Homo sapiens: one gene and its partners. The protein of the gene in region 1 interacts with the protein of each later gene in a biochemical or structural test. Each region holds a gene or a part of one and is shown on either strand. Other genes may lie near its edges.

Region 1 (7,160 bases):
CTGCCCCACTCGGGCCTGTCCCCACAGGTGAGTACCTCCTGACCGTGCTGGCATCTAATGCCTTCGAGAACCTGACGCAGCAGGTGCCTGTGAGCGTGCGCGCCTCCCTGCCCTCCGTGGCTGTGGGTGTGAGTGACGGCGTCCTGGTGGCCGGCCGGCCCGTCACCTTCTACCCGCACCCGCTGCCCTCGCCTGGGGGTGTTCTTTACACGTGGGACTTCGGGGACGGCTCCCCTGTCCTGACCCAGAGCCAGCCGGCTGCCAACCACACCTATGCCTCGAGGGGCACCTACCACGTGCGCCTGGAGGTCAACAACACGGTGAGCGGTGCGGCGGCCCAGGCGGATGTGCGCGTCTTTGAGGAGCTCCGCGGACTCAGCGTGGACATGAGCCTGGCCGTGGAGCAGGGCGCCCCCGTGGTGGTCAGCGCCGCGGTGCAGACGGGCGACAACATCACGTGGACCTTCGACATGGGGGACGGCACCGTGCTGTCGGGCCCGGAGGCAACAGTGGAGCATGTGTACCTGCGGGCACAGAACTGCACAGTGACCGTGGGTGCGGCCAGCCCCGCCGGCCACCTGGCCCGGAGCCTGCACGTGCTGGTCTTCGTCCTGGAGGTGCTGCGCGTTGAACCCGCCGCCTGCATCCCCACGCAGCCTGACGCGCGGCTCACGGCCTACGTCACCGGGAACCCGGCCCACTACCTCTTCGACTGGACCTTCGGGGATGGCTCCTCCAACACGACCGTGCGGGGGTGCCCGACGGTGACACACAACTTCACGCGGAGCGGCACGTTCCCCCTGGCGCTGGTGCTGTCCAGCCGCGTGAACAGGGCGCATTACTTCACCAGCATCTGCGTGGAGCCAGAGGTGGGCAACGTCACCCTGCAGCCAGAGAGGCAGTTTGTGCAGCTCGGGGACGAGGCCTGGCTGGTGGCATGTGCCTGGCCCCCGTTCCCCTACCGCTACACCTGGGACTTTGGCACCGAGGAAGCCGCCCCCACCCGTGCCAGGGGCCCTGAGGTGACGTTCATCTACCGAGACCCAGGCTCCTATCTTGTGACAGTCACCGCGTCCAACAACATCTCTGCTGCCAATGACTCAGCCCTGGTGGAGGTGCAGGAGCCCGTGCTGGTCACCAGCATCAAGGTCAATGGCTCCCTTGGGCTGGAGCTGCAGCAGCCGTACCTGTTCTCTGCTGTGGGCCGTGGGCGCCCCGCCAGCTACCTGTGGGATCTGGGGGACGGTGGGTGGCTCGAGGGTCCGGAGGTCACCCACGCTTACAACAGCACAGGTGACTTCACCGTTAGGGTGGCCGGCTGGAATGAGGTGAGCCGCAGCGAGGCCTGGCTCAATGTGACGGTGAAGCGGCGCGTGCGGGGGCTCGTCGTCAATGCAAGCCGCACGGTGGTGCCCCTGAATGGGAGCGTGAGCTTCAGCACGTCGCTGGAGGCCGGCAGTGATGTGCGCTATTCCTGGGTGCTCTGTGACCGCTGCACGCCCATCCCTGGGGGTCCTACCATCTCTTACACCTTCCGCTCCGTGGGCACCTTCAATATCATCGTCACGGCTGAGAACGAGGTGGGCTCCGCCCAGGACAGCATCTTCGTCTATGTCCTGCAGCTCATAGAGGGGCTGCAGGTGGTGGGCGGTGGCCGCTACTTCCCCACCAACCACACGGTACAGCTGCAGGCCGTGGTTAGGGATGGCACCAACGTCTCCTACAGCTGGACTGCCTGGAGGGACAGGGGCCCGGCCCTGGCCGGCAGCGGCAAAGGCTTCTCGCTCACCGTGCTCGAGGCCGGCACCTACCATGTGCAGCTGCGGGCCACCAACATGCTGGGCAGCGCCTGGGCCGACTGCACCATGGACTTCGTGGAGCCTGTGGGGTGGCTGATGGTGGCCGCCTCCCCGAACCCAGCTGCCGTCAACACAAGCGTCACCCTCAGTGCCGAGCTGGCTGGTGGCAGTGGTGTCGTATACACTTGGTCCTTGGAGGAGGGGCTGAGCTGGGAGACCTCCGAGCCATTTACCACCCATAGCTTCCCCACACCCGGCCTGCACTTGGTCACCATGACGGCAGGGAACCCGCTGGGCTCAGCCAACGCCACCGTGGAAGTGGATGTGCAGGTGCCTGTGAGTGGCCTCAGCATCAGGGCCAGCGAGCCCGGAGGCAGCTTCGTGGCGGCCGGGTCCTCTGTGCCCTTTTGGGGGCAGCTGGCCACGGGCACCAATGTGAGCTGGTGCTGGGCTGTGCCCGGCGGCAGCAGCAAGCGTGGCCCTCATGTCACCATGGTCTTCCCGGATGCTGGCACCTTCTCCATCCGGCTCAATGCCTCCAACGCAGTCAGCTGGGTCTCAGCCACGTACAACCTCACGGCGGAGGAGCCCATCGTGGGCCTGGTGCTGTGGGCCAGCAGCAAGGTGGTGGCGCCCGGGCAGCTGGTCCATTTTCAGATCCTGCTGGCTGCCGGCTCAGCTGTCACCTTCCGCCTGCAGGTCGGCGGGGCCAACCCCGAGGTGCTCCCCGGGCCCCGTTTCTCCCACAGCTTCCCCCGCGTCGGAGACCACGTGGTGAGCGTGCGGGGCAAAAACCACGTGAGCTGGGCCCAGGCGCAGGTGCGCATCGTGGTGCTGGAGGCCGTGAGTGGGCTGCAGGTGCCCAACTGCTGCGAGCCTGGCATCGCCACGGGCACTGAGAGGAACTTCACAGCCCGCGTGCAGCGCGGCTCTCGGGTCGCCTACGCCTGGTACTTCTCGCTGCAGAAGGTCCAGGGCGACTCGCTGGTCATCCTGTCGGGCCGCGACGTCACCTACACGCCCGTGGCCGCGGGGCTGTTGGAGATCCAGGTGCGCGCCTTCAACGCCCTGGGCAGTGAGAACCGCACGCTGGTGCTGGAGGTTCAGGACGCCGTCCAGTATGTGGCCCTGCAGAGCGGCCCCTGCTTCACCAACCGCTCGGCGCAGTTTGAGGCCGCCACCAGCCCCAGCCCCCGGCGTGTGGCCTACCACTGGGACTTTGGGGATGGGTCGCCAGGGCAGGACACAGATGAGCCCAGGGCCGAGCACTCCTACCTGAGGCCTGGGGACTACCGCGTGCAGGTGAACGCCTCCAACCTGGTGAGCTTCTTCGTGGCGCAGGCCACGGTGACCGTCCAGGTGCTGGCCTGCCGGGAGCCGGAGGTGGACGTGGTCCTGCCCCTGCAGGTGCTGATGCGGCGATCACAGCGCAACTACTTGGAGGCCCACGTTGACCTGCGCGACTGCGTCACCTACCAGACTGAGTACCGCTGGGAGGTGTATCGCACCGCCAGCTGCCAGCGGCCGGGGCGCCCAGCGCGTGTGGCCCTGCCCGGCGTGGACGTGAGCCGGCCTCGGCTGGTGCTGCCGCGGCTGGCGCTGCCTGTGGGGCACTACTGCTTTGTGTTTGTCGTGTCATTTGGGGACACGCCACTGACACAGAGCATCCAGGCCAATGTGACGGTGGCCCCCGAGCGCCTGGTGCCCATCATTGAGGGTGGCTCATACCGCGTGTGGTCAGACACACGGGACCTGGTGCTGGATGGGAGCGAGTCCTACGACCCCAACCTGGAGGACGGCGACCAGACGCCGCTCAGTTTCCACTGGGCCTGTGTGGCTTCGACACAGGTCAGTGCGTGGCAGGGCCGTCCTCCATGCCCCTCACCCGTCCACACCCATGAGCCCAGAGAACACCCAGCTTGCCACCAGGGCTGGCCCGTCCTCAGTGCCTGGTGGGCCCCGTCCCAGCATGGGGAGGGGGTCTCCCGCGCTGTCTCCTGGGCCGGGCTCTGCTTTAAAACTGGATGGGGCTCTCAGGCCACGTCGCCCCTTGTTCTCGGCCTGCAGAGGGAGGCTGGCGGGTGTGCGCTGAACTTTGGGCCCCGCGGGAGCAGCACGGTCACCATTCCACGGGAGCGGCTGGCGGCTGGCGTGGAGTACACCTTCAGCCTGACCGTGTGGAAGGCCGGCCGCAAGGAGGAGGCCACCAACCAGACGGTGGGTGCCGCCCGCCCCTCGGCCACTTGCCTTGGACAGCCCAGCCTCCCTGGTCATCTACTGTTTTCCGTGTTTTAGTGCTGGTGGAGGCCGCACGCTCTCCCCTCTCTGTTTCTGATGCAAATTCTATGTAACACGACAGCCTGCTTCAGCTTTGCTTCCTTCCAAACCTGCCACAGTTCCACGTACAGTCTTCAAGCCACATATGCTCTAGTGGCAAAAGCTACACAGTCCCCTAGCAATACCAACAGTGAGGAAGAGCCCCTTCCCACCCCAGAGGTAGCCACTGTCCCCAGCCCATGTCCCTGTTGCTGGATGTGGTGGGCCGGTTCTCACCCTCACGCTCCCCTCTCTGGACCGGCCAGGAGGCTTGGTGACCCTGAGCCCGTGGTGGCTGCTCCTGCTGCTGTCAGGCGGGGCCTGCTGGTGCCCCAGAGTGGGCGTCTGTTCCCCAGTCCCTGCTTTCCTCAGCTGGCCTGATTGGGGGTCTTCCCAGAGGGGTCGTCTGAGGGGAGGGTGTGGGAGCAGGTTCCATCCCAGCTCAGCCTCCTGACCCAGGCCCTGGCTAAGGGCTGCAGGAGTCTGTGAGTCAGGCCTACGTGGCAGCTGCGGTCCTCACACCCACACATACGTCTCTTCTCACACGCATCCCCCCAGGGGCCCTCAGTGAGCATTGCCTGCCTCCTGCTAGGGTCCAGCTGGGTCCAGTACACCAGAACGCACACTCCAGTGTCCTCTGCCCTGTGTATGCCCTTCCGCCGTCCAAGTTGGAAGGTGGCAAACCGGATGAGTATCCTGGGAGGGAGTGAGCTCACCGGCAGTGGCCAGGCCCCTGGGAAACCTGGAGTTTGGGAGCAGCATCCTCCATGGGTCCCCCAGTCCTTCCAGCAGGCCAAATAGACCTGTGTTGGAGGTAACCCCACTCCCACGCCAGGTGCTGATCCGGAGTGGCCGGGTGCCCATTGTGTCCTTGGAGTGTGTGTCCTGCAAGGCACAGGCCGTGTACGAAGTGAGCCGCAGCTCCTACGTGTACTTGGAGGGCCGCTGCCTCAATTGCAGCAGCGGCTCCAAGCGAGGGGTGAGTGTTGAGCGGGGTGTGGGCGGGCTGGGGATGGGTCCCATGGCCGAGGGGACGGGGCCTGCAGGCAGAAGTGGGGCTGACAGGGCAGAGGGTTGCGCCCCCTCACCACCCCTTCTGCCTGCAGCGGTGGGCTGCACGTACGTTCAGCAACAAGACGCTGGTGCTGGATGAGACCACCACATCCACGGGCAGTGCAGGCATGCGACTGGTGCTGCGGCGGGGCGTGCTGCGGGACGGCGAGGGATACACCTTCACGCTCACGGTGCTGGGCCGCTCTGGCGAGGAGGAGGGCTGCGCCTCCATCCGCCTGTCCCCCAACCGCCCGCCGCTGGGGGGCTCTTGCCGCCTCTTCCCACTGGGCGCTGTGCACGCCCTCACCACCAAGGTGCACTTCGAATGCACGGGTGAGTGCAGGCCTGCGTGGGGGGAGCAGCGGGATCCCCCGACTCTGTGACGTCACGGAGCCCTCCCGTGATGCCGTGGGGACCGTCCCTCAGGCTGGCATGACGCGGAGGATGCTGGCGCCCCGCTGGTGTACGCCCTGCTGCTGCGGCGCTGTCGCCAGGGCCACTGCGAGGAGTTCTGTGTCTACAAGGGCAGCCTCTCCAGCTACGGAGCCGTGCTGCCCCCGGGTTTCAGGCCACACTTCGAGGTGGGCCTGGCCGTGGTGGTGCAGGACCAGCTGGGAGCCGCTGTGGTCGCCCTCAACAGGTGAGCCAGGCCGTGGGAGGGCGCCCCCGAGACTGCCACCTGCTCACCACCCCCCTCTGCTCGTAGGTCTTTGGCCATCACCCTCCCAGAGCCCAACGGCAGCGCAACGGGGCTCACAGTCTGGCTGCACGGGCTCACCGCTAGTGTGCTCCCAGGGCTGCTGCGGCAGGCCGATCCCCAGCACGTCATCGAGTACTCGTTGGCCCTGGTCACCGTGCTGAACGAGGTGAGTGCAGCCTGGGAGGGGACGTCACATCTGCTGCATGCGTGCTTGGGACCAAGACCTGTACCCCTGCCTGGAGCTTTGCAGAGGGCTCATCCCGGGCCCCAGAGATAAATCCCAGTGACCCTGAAGCAGCACCCCGACCTTCCGCTCCCAGCAGCCACACCCACCGGGCCCTCTCCGGCGTCTGCTTTCCACAATGCAGCCCCCGCCCAGGAGGGCCCATGTGCTTACCCTGTTTTGCCCATGAAGAAACAGCTCAGTGTTGTGGGTCAGTGCCCGCATCACACAGCGTCTAGCACGTAACTGCACCCCGGGAGTCGTGGGCATCTGCTGGCCTCCTGCCGGCCTCCTGCGCTGCTGACAGCTTGCTGTGCCCCCTGCCTGCCCCAGTACGAGCGGGCCCTGGACGTGGCGGCAGAGCCCAAGCACGAGCGGCAGCACCGAGCCCAGATACGCAAGAACATCACGGAGACTCTGGTGTCCCTGAGGGTCCACACTGTGGATGACATCCAGCAGATCGCTGCTGCGCTGGCCCAGTGCATGGTAGGATGGCCCCACCTGCTCACCCTGCCCCGCATGCCTGCCAGGGCACTGGGTTCAGCCCCCCAGGGCAGACGGGCAGCTTGGCCGAGGAGCTGAGCCTCCAGCCTGGGCTCCTTCCTGCCATGGCGTTCCTCGGTCTCTGACCTGCTTCAGTAGCCTCAGCCGTTCTGTCCTGTGTGAACGCAGGGTGCCTCTCGGGGGACCCAGGGTGTAAAGAGGGGCCCAGATGTGGGGAGGGACTAAGAAGATGCTGCTCTGTGCCCTCCACTCTCCCCTCCCCTCCCCTCCCCCTTCCCTCCCCTAGCCCCTCCCCTCCTCCCCTCCCCTAGCCCTTCCCCTCCTCCCCTCCCCTAGCCCTTTCCCTTCTTCCCCCCCAGCCCTTCCCCTCCTCCCCTCCCCTTTTTCTCCACTCCCCTCTCCTCTCTCCCCTCCTCCTCCGCTCTCATGTGAAGAGGTGCCTTGTGTGGTCGGTGGGCTGCATCACGTGGTCCCCAGGTGGAGGCCCTGGGTCATGCAGAGCCACAGAAAATGCTTAGTGAGGAGGCTGTGGGGGTCCAGTCAAGTGGGCTCTCCAGCTGCAGGG
Region 2 (7,364 bases), on another chromosome or scaffold:
TAAATCTTTTATCTTTTTTTTAATATACACAATTAAAACTATAAATTTCCATCTAAGTACTGTTTAACCTGTATCTCATTTAAAAAATGAATTTTTCAAAGAGTCATTCAAATTTTTCTTTGGTACTAGGTAAAAAATACTCTCTTGGGAATTGGGGAGGAGTTGAATGGAAAAGAATCTAAGGGAATGTTTCTCCATAATCCTAGTATGAATTGATTTACTTCTCAGTAACCTTACCTTATTACCATCAAATAGACAGAGGCGTACATGTCTGCTGAGAACCTGTATGCTCATTCCTGGAAGAGGAATCATTTTACAGCTCCATAATGTCAGAATCAATGAAATACGACTTGGTCTCGACCTAATCTGAAAGAAAAATTAGTTATAAAAAAGTTTATTTTTATGATTTCTAACACAAATCTGTCTTTTGTGAATTCGGCTTATGAAAATGTATACAGAATTTTTAAAAAAGAAAAAATTTACACATATACAATAAAAGTTTCAATACTCTGTTCATTGAAAATTAAATCAGTCATTTTAGGTAAATTTTTCATAGAGTTACATTTGAAATATTGCATTTTTCTTAAATACTTAAAAGCTGTGATGAAAGGAACAATAAATATTGGCAGGCAAAATGTATATGATCTATGACTATAGAATCACTGTATTCCAGTCCCGGTTCACTCCTACAGAATGTGGGTAAGTGCAGAAGGCTAACGCAGCATAAAACCAATGCCACCTGGCATTAAGATTATCCCCACTATTTTTTATTCCAAGCAATTATCTGCATAGTTCCTTAGTTTCTTAATAGGTGTTTTAACAGAGAGAATGCACTATCTGATATATTTATTCAGATCTGCTTCATAGGTATAATTCAGATTGTGAGTAAATAAATTGGCATTCTGATTTTTTATTTTTTAAGAACAGCTTCAATTCATTAAACTTTACATTCTGCTTTACGGTCATAAGCCTTTTCATTTAAATAACTTATATTAGACTGGGACTGGTGGCTCACACTTGTAATCCTAGCACTTTGGGAGGGATAGGAGGGCAGATTGCTTGAGCTCAGGAGTTTGAGACCAGCCTGGCAACGTGGCAAAACCCCATCTTTACAAAAAATACAAAAATTACCTGGGCATGGTGGTGTAGGCCTGTGGCCCCAGCTACTCAGGAAGCTGAAGTGGGAGGGTCGCTTGAGCCCAGGAATTTGAGGTTACAGTGAGCCATGATCACACCACTGCCCTCTAGCCTGGGTGACAGAGGGAGACCCTGTCTCAAAAATACTACTACTACTGCTACTACTACTATAAATGATAATAATGGCTAACATCTATTGAGTTCTTTTCATATGCCAGGCATTATTCAAAACCCTTCACACACATAATTATCAAAATAACTTTATGTTGGAAGCATTACTATTACTCCATCTTTACAGATGAAGAAATTGAGGCAAAGAATGATTAAGATAGAAACCTAGTATTATTTCCTTTCTAACAATGAGAGAAGAGTGCAATGGAGAAGAGAAACAAGATAAAGTCAAGGTAGCAAGTCCAAATTCTGCCTTAGTTATAAAAATATCGCTATTTTCAAAATTATCATAAACAATTTTTTTGTTTTTTATAATTCATTAGTCAATTAACATGTTGTTTGTCTAATTGCAACTATGACAAAATCTGGAAGAGTTACACTTTTACTGATAGTAACTATACTTACAGTGCCTTCTGTAGCATCCCACATCAGATCTCTGAAGGCCAGTTGTGAAGGCATGAGCTCTGGTTGTAAGAAGTAATTTGCTCGAAATTGATTCCCTGAAAAAATCATTTTTTCTTCATTTTCTTACAAAGAAAGAAACTCCAAATCAAAAATCCATAATGTTATGCTATGAACTAGAGTACAGGCACTTCCAAAATGCCACGCTGCTTACTAAGAACTTGCTTTCCAAAATAGAAGCGCCAATATAGATTTATGGATAAAAACAGCAGTACAAAACTTACAGATACAAACACATAAAAGATCATCTTAAAGCACCTTTAAGAAAGACTTTTAGGCCAATAATATGCCCCATGATGACAAGGATTCATTCAAATATTTTTGTAAAATGCAGAAATCTATGAGCACTTTTTGGAGACTTCAGAAAAAACAAAGTCGTTAGTTTTACTTCTTAACACAAAAGCATTTTATGCTCTTCCTCCATGCTTTAGTCATGAATAATACTTTTAATAACATCATTTATCCATTCGAGAAATAATTTTTGAGCTTCTACTCTTGCCAGATGCTACACCAGGTTCTAGAAATACAAAGATAAATCAGAGATATGTCCCCTGCCCTCCATAGTTTACAGTTGAATGGGAGGAAAATTTTCTTAGAAAATAAGTAGACAAGCAAATAAATAAAATAATTATTAGGGGACATAGAGCTATAAAGGGTGTTCACATGAATGGGAGTAAGGGAAACCCACATTACTCAAGGAAGGCATCTCTGGGAAGGCAGAATTTACCGCGAGACCTGAAGGATGAAAAGATGGGAATTTAGGGAGTACTGGGAAGAACCTTCCCAGCAAAGGCATCCTCAAAGCAGCCCTTCCATGACAACTCAACAACTCAGGGTATACAGGACACCCCTTGTCCCCCAGCATGAATCCTCTTTAAAATGAGCTTATAGACAAAAGTTGCCAAATACAGGGAAAGCCAAGAATGAGTAAGGAAAATGAAAATTCCAAATGGAGATAATTCTTTGGAAAAGTCTTGCTTGGAAGAAGATCAGAGAAAAGGAGGTTTTGGCTAGAATGGGATAGGATTCAAGGGGCTGATCCTTTAAGGTGGGGAGAATTAGGTGTGCTGATAGCACAGATGAGGGAATGAACCAGTGTGGGGAAGGTGGGCCAGCTAAAGACACAGGAAAGGGCTGAAAATTAAAGGAGTCACATTTTTGAAAAAAAGAAAGGGGCTGGAACCCGGAGCACTGGTAAACAGGCTGGCCTCTGATAGGATCAGGGATCTTTCCTCACTGTCATAGGAAGGATGAGGAAAAGATGAGCACCAAAGAGATGTGAGATTCAACATCTTCTTCAACAATGTGTTTTGCCTGTGACAGAAAAATTAGACGTGGATCTTGACTGCTTTGCTGAAAGAGTGCAGTGGCTGATAGGCACGCATTACCTTCCTCCAGAAGCTGTGAGAGCGTGGAAGGCCTGAACCCTGCAGGAATAGCTCCCATCGTAGTTAACACATCAACAGTGTTTATCTGCTGAAGACAGTAACATCAAAATGGATTTGTTTTCAGTCATGTTTCTGCATCTCTATAATACTTTATCACTAGAGTAACTATAACCCAAAAAAGAAAAATATAAACATACAGACTTTAGTGGAAGAATAATACGATTTGGCCCCAAATTCCTGAGAGGATGCCATCACAGCACCCTGGCCTCTCCTAAGGACCTAAGCCCCATACAGTGCCCAGCGTGCAGAGCTGTGTGTTCCGGAGCAGCTGCTTCAAGTATACCCTTATCAAAATGTCCCTGCTCCTGTCCTGCTCCACCCTGCGCTTCCATTTCACAGGTAAGTTAATGTCTATTGGCAAATCACATGCACTGAAGAATTAATGGATTTTTTTTGTATACACATACACACTACTCATAGACACACACCCTCACACATACAAGGATGTACTTATAAGTAATAAATAACGAAAAAGGTCAGGAAGGACACGTACTAAATTGTTAATGGTGATTACTTATGAGTTTGAGGAAGAGAATTTTCATTTGGCTATGTAATTATTTTTTTGTTTTTTGAGACGGAGTCTCACTCTGTCGCCCAGGCTGGAGTACAGTGGAGTATTCTCGGCTCACTGCAACCTCCGCCTCCCAGGTTCAAGCAATTCTCCTGCCTCAGCCTCCCCAGGAGCTGGGACTACAGACATGCGCTACCACGCCCAGCTAATTTTTCTATTTTTAGTCGAGGTGAGGTTTCGCTGTGTTGACTAGGCTGGTCTTGAACTCTTGACCCCAGGTGATCCACCCGCCTTGGCCTCCCAAAGTGCTGGGATTACAGGTGTGAGCCACTGTGCCCATGAGCCACTGTGCCCGGCCTGTAATTTTTTTTTAATGACAGAATTATGGATCATTTCTCCTTTAAAAAAATGTAATTAATTACTTTTTTTTTTTTAAGACAGGGTCTTGCCCTGTCACTCATGCTCTGGAGTGCAGTGGCACAATCACAGCTCACTACAGCCTTGACTTCCCAAACTCATGCAATCCTCCCACCTCAGCCTCCCGAGTAGCTGGGACTACAGGCATGAGCCACCACACCTGGCTAATTTTTCTTATTTTTTGTAGGATAGGGTCTCACTATGTTGCTCAAGCTGGTCTTGAATTCCTGGCCTCAAGTGATCCTCCTGCTTCAGCTTCCCAAAATGTTGGGATTACCAGTGTGAATCACCATGCCTGGCCAATTTCTTACTTTTTATTAAAGGCTTTCAGGATTTTTCGAATAGTAAATAAAATTTAACATCTGTTTCCACTCAAATGATAGGAAAGCAGGATCAATGAGAATGTTTCCAAGTCCTCAAGTGACACCATGAATTATCTATTCTTTTTGTACAAAAAAAAAAAAAAACTAATGAGAAATGTTACTTGGAGCACAGGCTTAGAAACCAGAAATATACGTCCTCTGCTCTGTACATTCCATGCCCTGAACCCTGTTTCAGATCCATTGGTGTCTTCCACAGTCTCCATCCTATTTCGCATCAGAACTATTAGGTAGCAAAACGAGACATGATTAACAAGACAGAAGATGCCCGCCTCTGAAATCGCTTTCTGAACAGCACTCCAGTGGGGATCAGTTCTGGGGAGACAAAATAGCAAAGTGAGTCAGGTCAGGTTATGCCTATTCACTCAATTAGGGAACTTCTTTAATCACAGTTGATAATCATCAGTAAGTTTTGAAAATCTAACAGTTTCCAGATGAAAACGAGGTAGAGCTAAATGTATTAAAAATAATTACAAAACTAAAACAGTAATGATCTTTAAGCAGACAATAGTATGAAAAGCTCTCCAGGTACAAGTTGTCTCCATTTCAAGAAAGTATTGAATTAGTTATAATAATAAAAATAAACAAATAAAATGTTTCCTAAACCTACTTTGATATCCTTTCCCACTTTTGTACCTTTGCTTAACTTCTGCTCCATCTGCTGTTTCATCCACCGCCTCTACATCTTCTTCACTGCCCTCTTCACTTGACTCTTGGCCTTCTTCTTCTTCACTATAAGGCTAAAAAACCATTGAAATGTGAAGTGCTTTTTAACTAATGCAAAAAACAACCAATAAAAATACCAGTACTGCCACCTAACCCTCCAGTAAAAACAAAAACAAGCTTTTCTGTTTAAAAACAAAAAAACAAAAGCATCAGTACTTTCAGAAAATCTTGAGCATAGATGGGAATTTAGTATATATGATGAGCATATAAAACTCAGTGGGAAATAAATTTTCAACACATGGTTAATAACTTTGCTATTTGAAAAAATAAGAACTGAGATAGACAGCAAGTTTAATCAAAATAAATTCCAGATGGAATTTACTTAAATAAAAAAGAAAAGACGTAAAGATAAAAATAAAAGAAACATAAAAGCATTAGAAGAAAATAATCTAGAGATGGGGAAGCCCTTTCCAATCATGATACAAAATCAAAAATCATAAGTGGAAACACTGACAGATTTAGCTACATAATAAATAAACATGACCTAAAGTCAACAAAGAAAATATCTAACACATAACTTAAGCATATCCTGAGGGGAAAAAAAGAAAATAGCTCACACAAATATCTAAGGATTAATATCCTGATTATTAAAATATTATAAAAGCTCTTAGAAATCAATGAAAGAGTTTTTTAAATCCCTTAGAAAAAAATATCCAAAAGAACTGAAAAGGTACCAACACATAAAAATGATAAGCACTCAAGGTGATGGAAATCTCAAATACCCTGACTTGATTATTACACAATCCATACAAGTAAAAAGCACTCACACAAATACATAAAATATTATGTATCAATAAAGAAAACCGAAAGTGCCATTCGCAAAGAAGATATACAAATGGTCATAAAGCATATGAGATGATGCTTAACCTCATTAGGAGTACAGTAAATGCACATTAAACCACTAATGACACTTTTTTTGCTGGTCATATTGGCAAAAATTTTAAAGATTGCTAACAGCCATCACTGGCAATTGTGTGAGGAAACAGCACTCACTGATTGTTAGAGGTGGGAGTACAAATTGGCATAACTTTTCTAAAAGGCAAATTGGAAAAATAAATCAAAATATAAAGCTATAAACCCTTTGAACCAGTGATGAACATCTAGGAATTTATCTAAGGGGATAATCGGGCAAGTGTGCAAAGATGCACGCAGGCTTGATGACAACACAAGTTGCTGGCTGGCTACCACCTATTCCCCACCTCCTTTTTCAAACAAAATCCCTGATTTAACAATGATCCAGTTAAAAGACTACATTTCCCAAGACTTCCTTGCAGCTAACTGTTGCCAGAGAACTAAATGCTGGTCAATGAGCAACAGTTGAAAGTTTTTTTGTGTAACTTCCAAGAAACCTTCTTAAAAAGGCAGCAGCTTATGCCTTTTGAATTCTTTCCCCTTTTGCTCCTTGGAATCCTTAAAAGATCCAGCAGCTGACTTAAAACTAAAGAGATAACTCTAGGCAGAGCAGCCTCACATCAGAAACAGGATAAAATACTGGATAGGATCTTAACCAATTATTGATTGCTTTTCTCCACACTTTTATGCTTGAGAGAAATAGGCTTCTACCTTATTTAAGCTACTTTTTGGGGGGATCTTTTTGCAACTGACAGTGGATGCTAATCCCATGTTCTTTGCAACATAATCGATAGTGATTATAGGTTGGAAACAACTTCAATGACCATCTAAATGAGATTAGAAGACTTGCTGCCATTGAAAAAGATGATCTAGACCTGCCCTATGTAATACAATAGCCCTTTGGCCACATGTAGCTAGTGAGCTCTTGAAATTAATCCAAACTGAGAAGTGCTGTAAATGTAAAACACACATTGGATTTTGAACTTAATGTTAAAAAAGCAAAACAACTCAATATTTTTAAATATTGATATGTCAAAATAGTATTTTTGATATACTGGATAATATAAAATATATTATTAAAAATAATTCTACCTGTTTCTTTTTACTTTTTAAAAATGTGTGTAATGAAAAACATGTATTTGTTCTTTGTCACTGATTCCTGGCACAGAGCTCCTGAAACCCTTGGAATTTCCTGAATGATAGGAGTATGTTTTCTTACTCATCAAGAGTCCCCTTCAGTCACTCCTGAGTTTATGTTAA
Region 3 (7,364 bases), on another chromosome or scaffold:
CAGTCCCAGCTAGTTGGGAGGCTGGTTTGAACCCAGGAGGTCGAGGCTGCGGTGAGCTACAATCGTGTCACTGAACTCTAGCCTGGGTGATACAGCGAGACCCTGTCTTAAAAAAAAAAAAAAAGAATTGAAATGTGAACAAAAAAGAAGCTAAGTTATAAAAGTCTTAGCAGAATTTAATCATAACCTCAGAACAGGAAGACTTTCCCATTCATGACACCAAACTAGGAAACCAGAAAAGGAAAGAGTGATAAGTTTGACCACATAAACCCCAAAATACCTGCCAGACGTTAACAATCATCGTAGGAGAAGATGGGCAAAGAAGTACCTGCACTTGTGTCACCAATAAATGAGTAGCTGCCATAACAAATAAAGAGCTCCTACGAATCAACAAAATGGTGACAGATAACTGTAGACTGGGAAAGACACAATCATACAGGTCCCAGAAAATGAGGTCAGAGTTCAACCTGACGTGTGTGCTTACAAGAAGGAACTGTGCAAGGAAAATGGGCCGGGGAGGGTGGAGGTCGGGGCCACGGAGCTTGCAGGAGCTGAGGCAGCTCAGAGCCAGCCTCGGTGGTGACCCCGTCTCCCTGGTGGGGACACTCCATTTTCCAGCTCTTGATAGAAACACAGGTGACCGTCGGGAGGAGTGGGAGGGAGCTCCTGTGTGGCGAGTCCCTTCGCCTCTAGTGGTCTCTGCTCCCCTTGTGGAAACGCAGTTCCAAGAAAACAAAGAGGAAATGCTGCGAAGAGCCACAAGGACTTTTTCTCTGAGTCACAAGAAGACGAATATACGCTGCAATGACGCAGTGAGGGAAGAAGTCGCCTTGCACCCATATGGCTGCTGAGGATGGGAGAGATGGACGCGTCCTCCGCTGCCGGAACACGGAGCGCCCGGTCTGGTACAGTGCTGATGCTGCGTTTTGTTTTCTGGATTTTACGACATCTTGGGGGCCTCGCTAATCTGGGGATGACGGCCCCTTCCAGGGTAAGCGGATTCCTAAACGTTGCAAACGGCCCGCCTGCGAGCACACTGTGACGTGCAGAGCAACCAACCGCGAGCCCACGCACCTGATCAAACTCTCACGCGCCACGCCCAGGTTCCCTGCCCTGAATCACCCCAGGGCCAGCTCCCAGAACAGGGACCACCCCAACAGCCAAGAGCCGCAAACAGTCGGGAGTCAAACCAGCCCATCCTAGGCACACCCAGCCCATCTACCCCGCCTGGCCCGTCCCTTCCAACCAAAGCCTCGGGAACTGTAACACAAGAGCTTTTCAATAGCAGTCACCTCCTGCTCTCTTGGCCTCACCAGGCCTGATTTAAACCAATCAGAGTGCATCTGAATACACGTACCACCTTTCTGGGTTACAGAAGCATAGAGCCTTTACTGCACTGGGGGTGACAGCACCTCCGTCAACCTGGGATCTGAGAGATCGGGGAGCAAAACCACCAAAGCCCCCAACACAAGCGAGAAATGAGCCTCTGGGATGGCCGGGAGAGTGGGGATGTTTGTTTTAGCAGCAGACGCCAAGCCAGGCTGGCTCATACGCGCCCACAGGCACAGGCCCCGAGGCAGCTGCTCCCACCCCAGGCTCTTTTCCCTGCCCCAGCAGCCCCGCCCATGTCAGCGCATGCACCGTGGCCAGTCCAAGCACCGCACGGGAAGGGTGCACAGTGGGAGCTGCCCGCTCACGTCCCTGTCCCCACTCCCTGGGCGCCCACCATGGGCAGGGCCGGCTCTGAGCCTTTTGTGTGCATTGACTCATCTAATCCTCAAGGGACATTGCTTTCCAAATGAGGAAACTGAGGCACGGAGCGGCTGGGCAACCGAACCCAATCATCTCAGCTGTCCTCCTGCCAACAGCACAATGGAACAGAGACACCGTCCACTGAGCACAGCCACCACCAGGGTCCCGACGGCCCCACCCAGTCCCACTGCCGGCTCCCACCACGGCCCCCAACGCTCCCTACAGGGGCTCCTGGGGCCTCCCTCGCAGCTCGGCCATGCTGGGCCCCGGCGGCCCCCATGCTGCCCTTCCTGCATCCATCTTGGCTGAGGGCAGCTCTGTCCTTCCAGGGCTCAGGCTAAAATCTTGATTTCAAACTCAATCCCCCCTCAGCCCCACACTCAACCTTCAAAAGGTCCTGCTGGCTCTGCTTCCAAAATCCATCCCAGATGGCGCACTGCTCATGGTCCCCACCTGGCCCAGCCCCAGCTTCGCCCACCTGGGCCAGTGCAGTCCCCTCTGCCCTGGTTCCCCTAGCCCACGTCCCGCCCTCACCCCATCTGTCCTCCCCACAGCAGCCACCAGGGGGTGCCTGTGAGCTCCTGAGTCTCGCCCATCCCTCCTCTGCCCGCAGCCCTCCATGGCTCCCACCTCCCTTGGGGTCAAAGCCCAAGTCCTCCCTGCAGCCCACAAGGCCCTGCACACCCTGCCCCGTCCCCTCCCTGCCCTCCCCTCCTCACTGTTCCTCTAAAACACCAGGCGTGGTCCTGCCCCAGAGCCTTTGCACAGTGCCTCTGCCAGACAGCTCCCTCCACACTTCCACAACCCCCTCACTTCCCCTGGATCTCTGTTCAAGTGTGGCCCCCGAGTCCCCAGCCTTGAGGGCACCTCCGCCGCCACTCTCTCCCCTCCTCTGCTCGGCTCTTCTCCGTGGCACTTGTCCACTGCGTTGCGTGTTTTGCTTTTCTTTGCTGTCTGTATGTCCTGGCCCCACTCCCAGAGTTCCTTAGGGGGCCTGGCCCTCTCGTTCCCCCAGGCTCCCAGCACCCGGCCACAGCACACGCAGGAAAGCACACGTAGACGATGCCCGAACCACACCCCACTCCCGGAAACCTTCAGCAGCAGCCCTGCCTGCAAAGTGGAGGCATGAGGCATTTCAGTGGAGGAGAGCGGCCGGGCAGGGTGCTGGGGTCCTCTCTTCACTCAGCCAGAGGCCGGGTCCCCTCGCACCCCCATGCCAGCTCAGGCACCTGGGGGCCCTCATGCTCGACTCCAGCCCCTCCCAAGCTGGCCTCTCAGGGTGGCGGGGAGGCAGGTGCAGGGGCTCCGAGCTAATCCCCTCAGGCTGTAATCCCCATGAGTACTGGCACCACCACGGGCCCCGTCCAGCTGGCGCCTGCTGGCAAATCCTTGCAGGGTCTTGACCGGCCTGGTCCTGCGTGAAGGGACATGCTGCCGGGGCCAGGCGGCAGGCGGCAGGCGGCAGGGAGGCCTGGGCCCCGCTCCTCGTTCACAGCCCCACCCTGTGTGGACTCTCCAGCCCTCCTGGAGCCTCGGTTTCCCCATCTGTAAACAAAGACCCAGGTCGTGCAGCTTCCCAGGGGCTAGGGCCTCACCCATCCCTGTCCTGCCAGGCACTCAGGACACCCGCAGCTCTTGTTCCAAAAGGGAAAGAAGGGGCCACCATGGGGGCGCATGCCTGTAACCCCAGCACTTTGGGAGGTGGAGGCAGGAGGGCTGCTTGGGACCAAGGGTTCGAGACCCTCGCACCCTGGACAACATAGTGAGACCTCACCTCTACAAAAAAGTTTTAAAAATTTAAAAGAGGCTGGGCGCGGTGGCTCACACCTGTAATCCCAGCACTTTGGGAGGCTGAGGCGGGCGGATCACCAGGTCAGGAGATCAACACCCTCCTGGCTAACACGGTGAAACCCTGTCTCTACTAAAAATACAAAACATTAGCCGGGCGTAGTGGCGGACGCCTGTAGTCCCAGCTACTCAGGAGGCTGAGGCAGGAGAATGGCGTGAACCCGGGAGGTGGAGCTTGCAGTGAGCCGAGAACGCGCCACTGCACTCCAGCCCGGGCGAGACAGCGAGACTCCATCTCAAAAAAAAAAAAAAAAAAAAATTTAAAACAAAGGGAAGTCACTTGCTCAGAGGCACACGGGTCTAAGCGGCCAAGGCAGGCTCAGCCCACACCAGGCCCTGGGACCACCCTGCCCAGGCTCCCGGAGCCTCCACCTGCTTTGGGGGTCCCCACTGCCTGCTCACCCCACATCGGCACACACCTGCCACAGTGCCTGGGCTCCCAGTCCTGCTCTGTCCTCAGTCCTCGCCACCCCAGCCACCAGCTCCAGGGCCCAGGCCAAAATCCTTCCAGGCCCCTCGTCTGCCTCCAGGCACCGGTGGCACTCACCTGGACACCTGCCCCAACCCCACAGAGCACTGCCCACGGACCATCCCCCACCAGGCGCTGTGAATCGGGCTCGCCGCCCCACTCAGATGCCCGTGCCACCCGCTGTCCTCAGGTCCGACCCCACGCGACCCTCTCCCACCACGTTGACTTCACTTCTGCGGCTCAAGTGGGTGCAGCAAGTTCCCACCCCACGGCCTCGGCGCGACTATTCCGCTGCCTACATCGCCTGAGCCACAGCCCACCCTTATTCAGCTCGTGGGGACAGTCACCTCCCTCCGAGTCCTCAGCTGCCGCAGGCCTGGCCACTTGACCTCCCAGGTGCCCTCACCACACTCATCACCGCCCAACGCAGCCCGGCTCTGGGCTGGGCAAACATCTTCCGTAAAGGACCGGGCAGCAAGTGTTTTCGGCTTCGTGGGACACGTAGCCCCAAGCATGGCCACTCAGCTCCCAGCTCTGCCGCTGCAGCGTGGGGGCCACCAAGGCCGGCAACGGAACAAATGGTGTGGCCGTTGCCAATAAAACTTTGTTGACAAGAAGCGGCATGGACAGATTCGGGTGGGGTCTCACGTGGCCACTTGTTCCCATCTGCAGCCTGACGCCCAGCAACCTGAGGGCTCCAAGGGGTCAGCGAGGCAGTCCCGTTAGCACCAGAAGACTGGGCACCCTGAGCCCCACCTGGCCCACACGAGGTGCTCAACAAAGGTCTGGAGCCCAGGAGTGGAACTCACACTTTCACGAGCCGACTCCCATGGCGGACCCCAGCGCCCAGGTGAGCTCGCTTGGCACCTGGGCCCCGGAAGCAGCACACGAAGGGGACTCCCTCTCCTCCAACAGCAACCTGGGACGGAGGGGGCACCCAGCTTTCTCACGGGGCCGGCTGCCTGTCCCGTGCCTTCTAAGGGCTTTACCCCATGATTCTCCATGCAGCCCAGGAGAAAGGCAGCCATCACGCCCACTTTACAGACAGGTACACCGAGGCTGCACATCCCCGGCTGGCATGCAATGGCGCTGGGTGTGAACCCAGGAGGGCCGGCCCCCGAGGCCTCTCCACTGGGACACCCAGGCTGTGGTGGTCACAGTGCCTGACCTGCATCCCGGGAGGCGGCCAGGGCGGGAGAGAATGGGGAACTTTCCGTCCCCAGTGTCCTCAGCCTCCGCCTGGGCCCTGCTGACTTGCAACAAGAGACACCACAATCCCACTGACCCTTTTTTTTTTTTTTTTTTGAGATACGATTCTGCTGTCACCCAGGCATGCAGTGGCACGATCACAGCTCAGTGCAGCCTCAGCCTCCCAGGCTCAGGTGATCCTCCTGCCTCAGCCTCCTGAGTAGCTGGAACTACAGGTACATACCATTACGTCTAGCTACTTCTTTTAATTTTTTTTTAGTAGAGACAGGGGTCTTGCTATGTTGCTCCAGGCTGGTCTCAAACTCCTGAGATCAAGTGATCCTCCTGCTTCAGCCTCCCAAAATGCTGGGATTACAGGTGTGAGCCACCGTGCCCGGCCTCCCTGACCTTTTTACACAGACCACCACAGCTACAGGGAGGCCCTGGTGGCGGTGCTGACTCCCTGCCCGGCCGCCCTGTGACCACACTACACTGTGCTCCAGGCAGGCGGGGCCTCTGCTGGGGCCATGCCCTCTTCCTGCCCAATGCCCACAGGTCTCCCTCGGATGCCACCTTCTTGGCAAGGCCTTCCCAGCCACCCCATTCTACCTTACCCTTCCTCCCTGGCACTGCTGGCCTCATGCACCTGATGTTCACCAGGATCTGCACTGTGCTGAGCTCTTCCGGGCGCAGGGGATGCCGCAGGAGTGGCACAGACGGTCTTGGCCCTCGTGGAGCTCTCGCTCAGGAGGAGATGGTCAGAAAACACGTCAGCAGAGCCATATGTTTCAGGTGGTGACAAACGCTATGGTGGCACAATCAGGGAAGAGGAACCGGGAGGGCAGGGGACGGAGAAGGGGAGACCGCTGTGTGGTGACAGCAGGGCAGGGAGGCCTCACGGAGAGGAGATGCTCCCACAAAACCTGGAAAGCGCTAAGGGAGCAAAGGACACAGATGGGAGGAGGGGCATTCCGGGGTGGGGGTGGGGGGCAGCCGTGCAAAGGCCCCGGGGCAGGACCATGCCCTGCATGCTGGAGGAACAGCAAGGGGCCCATGGGCCTACAGCAGAGTGCAGACGGGAGGGCAGGGAGGGCAGAGTGCGGAGGGGAGGGCAGGGAGGGCAGGGAGGGCCCGGGGCAGGCTGTGCAGGGCCTGATGGGCTTCAAAGAGGACTATGTCTTTGACCCCAAGGGAGGTGGGAGCCATGGAGGGCTGCGAGCAGAGGAGGGTCGGGACTCGGGCCGCTGGTTTTTAATGGGGTCCTCCTGGAATGTGGGACAGGGAGCAGAGGAAGAGCAGGGGCGCCAGGCCTGGCTCAGGGGGCAAAGGAGGACTGAGCTGGACCGAGGAGGACTGAGCTGGACGGAGGAGGATCGAGCTGGACCGAGGAGGACCGAGCTGGACAAAGGAGGACTGAGCTGGACCGGGGAGGACCGAGCTGGACCAAGGAGGACCGAGCTGGACCGAGGAGGACCAAGGAGGACCGAGCCAGACGAAGGAGGACTGAGCCGGACGAAGGAGAACCGAGCCGGACAGAGGAGGACCAAGCTGGACTGGGGAGGACTGAGCCGGATGGAGGAGGACTAAGCTGGACCGGGGAGGACCGAGCTGGACCCGGGAGGACCGAGCCAGATGGAGGAGGACCAAGCCGGATAGAGGACCGAGCCGGATGGAGGAGGACTGGGCCGGACGGAGGAGGACCGAGCTGGACCGGGGAGGACCGAGCCAGACAGAGGAGGACTGAGCCAGACGGAGGAGGACTGAGCTGGACCGGGGAGTACTCAGCCAGACGGAGGAGGACCGAGCTGTACGGAGGAGGACCGAGCTGGACCGAGGAGGACCGAGCTGGACCGGGGAGGACCGAGCTGGACCAGGGAGGACCAAGCTGGACCCGGGAGGACCAAGCTGGACCCGGGAGAGGCAGAGGACAGGGAAGGAGTCAGTGGGTTCTGGGCCAGTTCTGAAGGTGAAGCTGCCATCATTTGCTGCCAGATCAGCCGTGGAAGTGGGGCAGGGGCAGGGATGCAGCTGACCTTTCCAGGGCATCACAGAGACAGATCAGCCGTGGGAGTGGGGCAGGGGCAGGGATGGAGCTGACCGTTCTGGG

Evidence for each region.
Region 2: the proteins of PKD1 (region 1) and NPHP1 are reported together in a solved structure, tested with the Homo sapiens proteins (one study listed by BioGRID and IntAct).
Region 3: of the proteins of PKD1 (region 1) and PIP5K1C, one has a biochemical effect on the other in vitro, tested with the Homo sapiens proteins (one study listed by BioGRID).

What each region holds. Positions count from the first base shown.
Region 1 is NC_000016.10:2,104,739-2,111,898, reverse strand, and holds part of PKD1 (polycystin-1 isoform 1 precursor), read left to right. Parts: intron 1-27; coding exon 28-3,647; intron 3,648-3,866; coding exon 3,867-4,016; intron 4,017-4,950; coding exon 4,951-5,094; intron 5,095-5,145; exon of another isoform or gene 5,146-5,221; coding exon 5,222-5,501; intron 5,502-5,594; coding exon 5,595-5,808; intron 5,809-5,874; coding exon 5,875-6,034; intron 6,035-6,424; coding exon 6,425-6,577; intron 6,578-7,160. UniProt on the Homo sapiens protein: Component of a heteromeric calcium-permeable ion channel formed by PKD1 and PKD2 that is activated by interaction between PKD1 and a Wnt family member, such as WNT3A and WNT9B. Both PKD1 and PKD2 are required for channel activity.
Region 2 is NC_000002.12:110,159,890-110,167,253, forward strand, and holds part of NPHP1 (nephrocystin-1), read right to left. Parts: intron 5,267-7,364; coding exon 5,163-5,266; intron 4,842-5,162; coding exon 4,799-4,841; coding exon of another isoform or gene 4,631-4,798; intron 3,247-4,630; coding exon 3,159-3,246; intron 1,809-3,158; coding exon 1,714-1,808; intron 367-1,713; coding exon 238-366; intron 1-237. UniProt on the Homo sapiens protein: Together with BCAR1 it may play a role in the control of epithelial cell polarity. Involved in the organization of apical junctions in kidney cells together with NPHP4 and RPGRIP1L/NPHP8. Does not seem to be strictly required for ciliogenesis.
Region 3 is NC_000019.10:3,690,374-3,697,737, forward strand, and holds part of PIP5K1C (phosphatidylinositol 4-phosphate 5-kinase type-1 gamma), read right to left. Parts: intron 1-7,364. UniProt on the Homo sapiens protein: Catalyzes the phosphorylation of phosphatidylinositol 4-phosphate (PtdIns(4)P/PI4P) to form phosphatidylinositol 4,5-bisphosphate (PtdIns(4,5)P2/PIP2), a lipid second messenger that regulates several cellular processes such as signal transduction, vesicle trafficking, actin cytoskeleton dynamics, cell adhesion, and cell motility.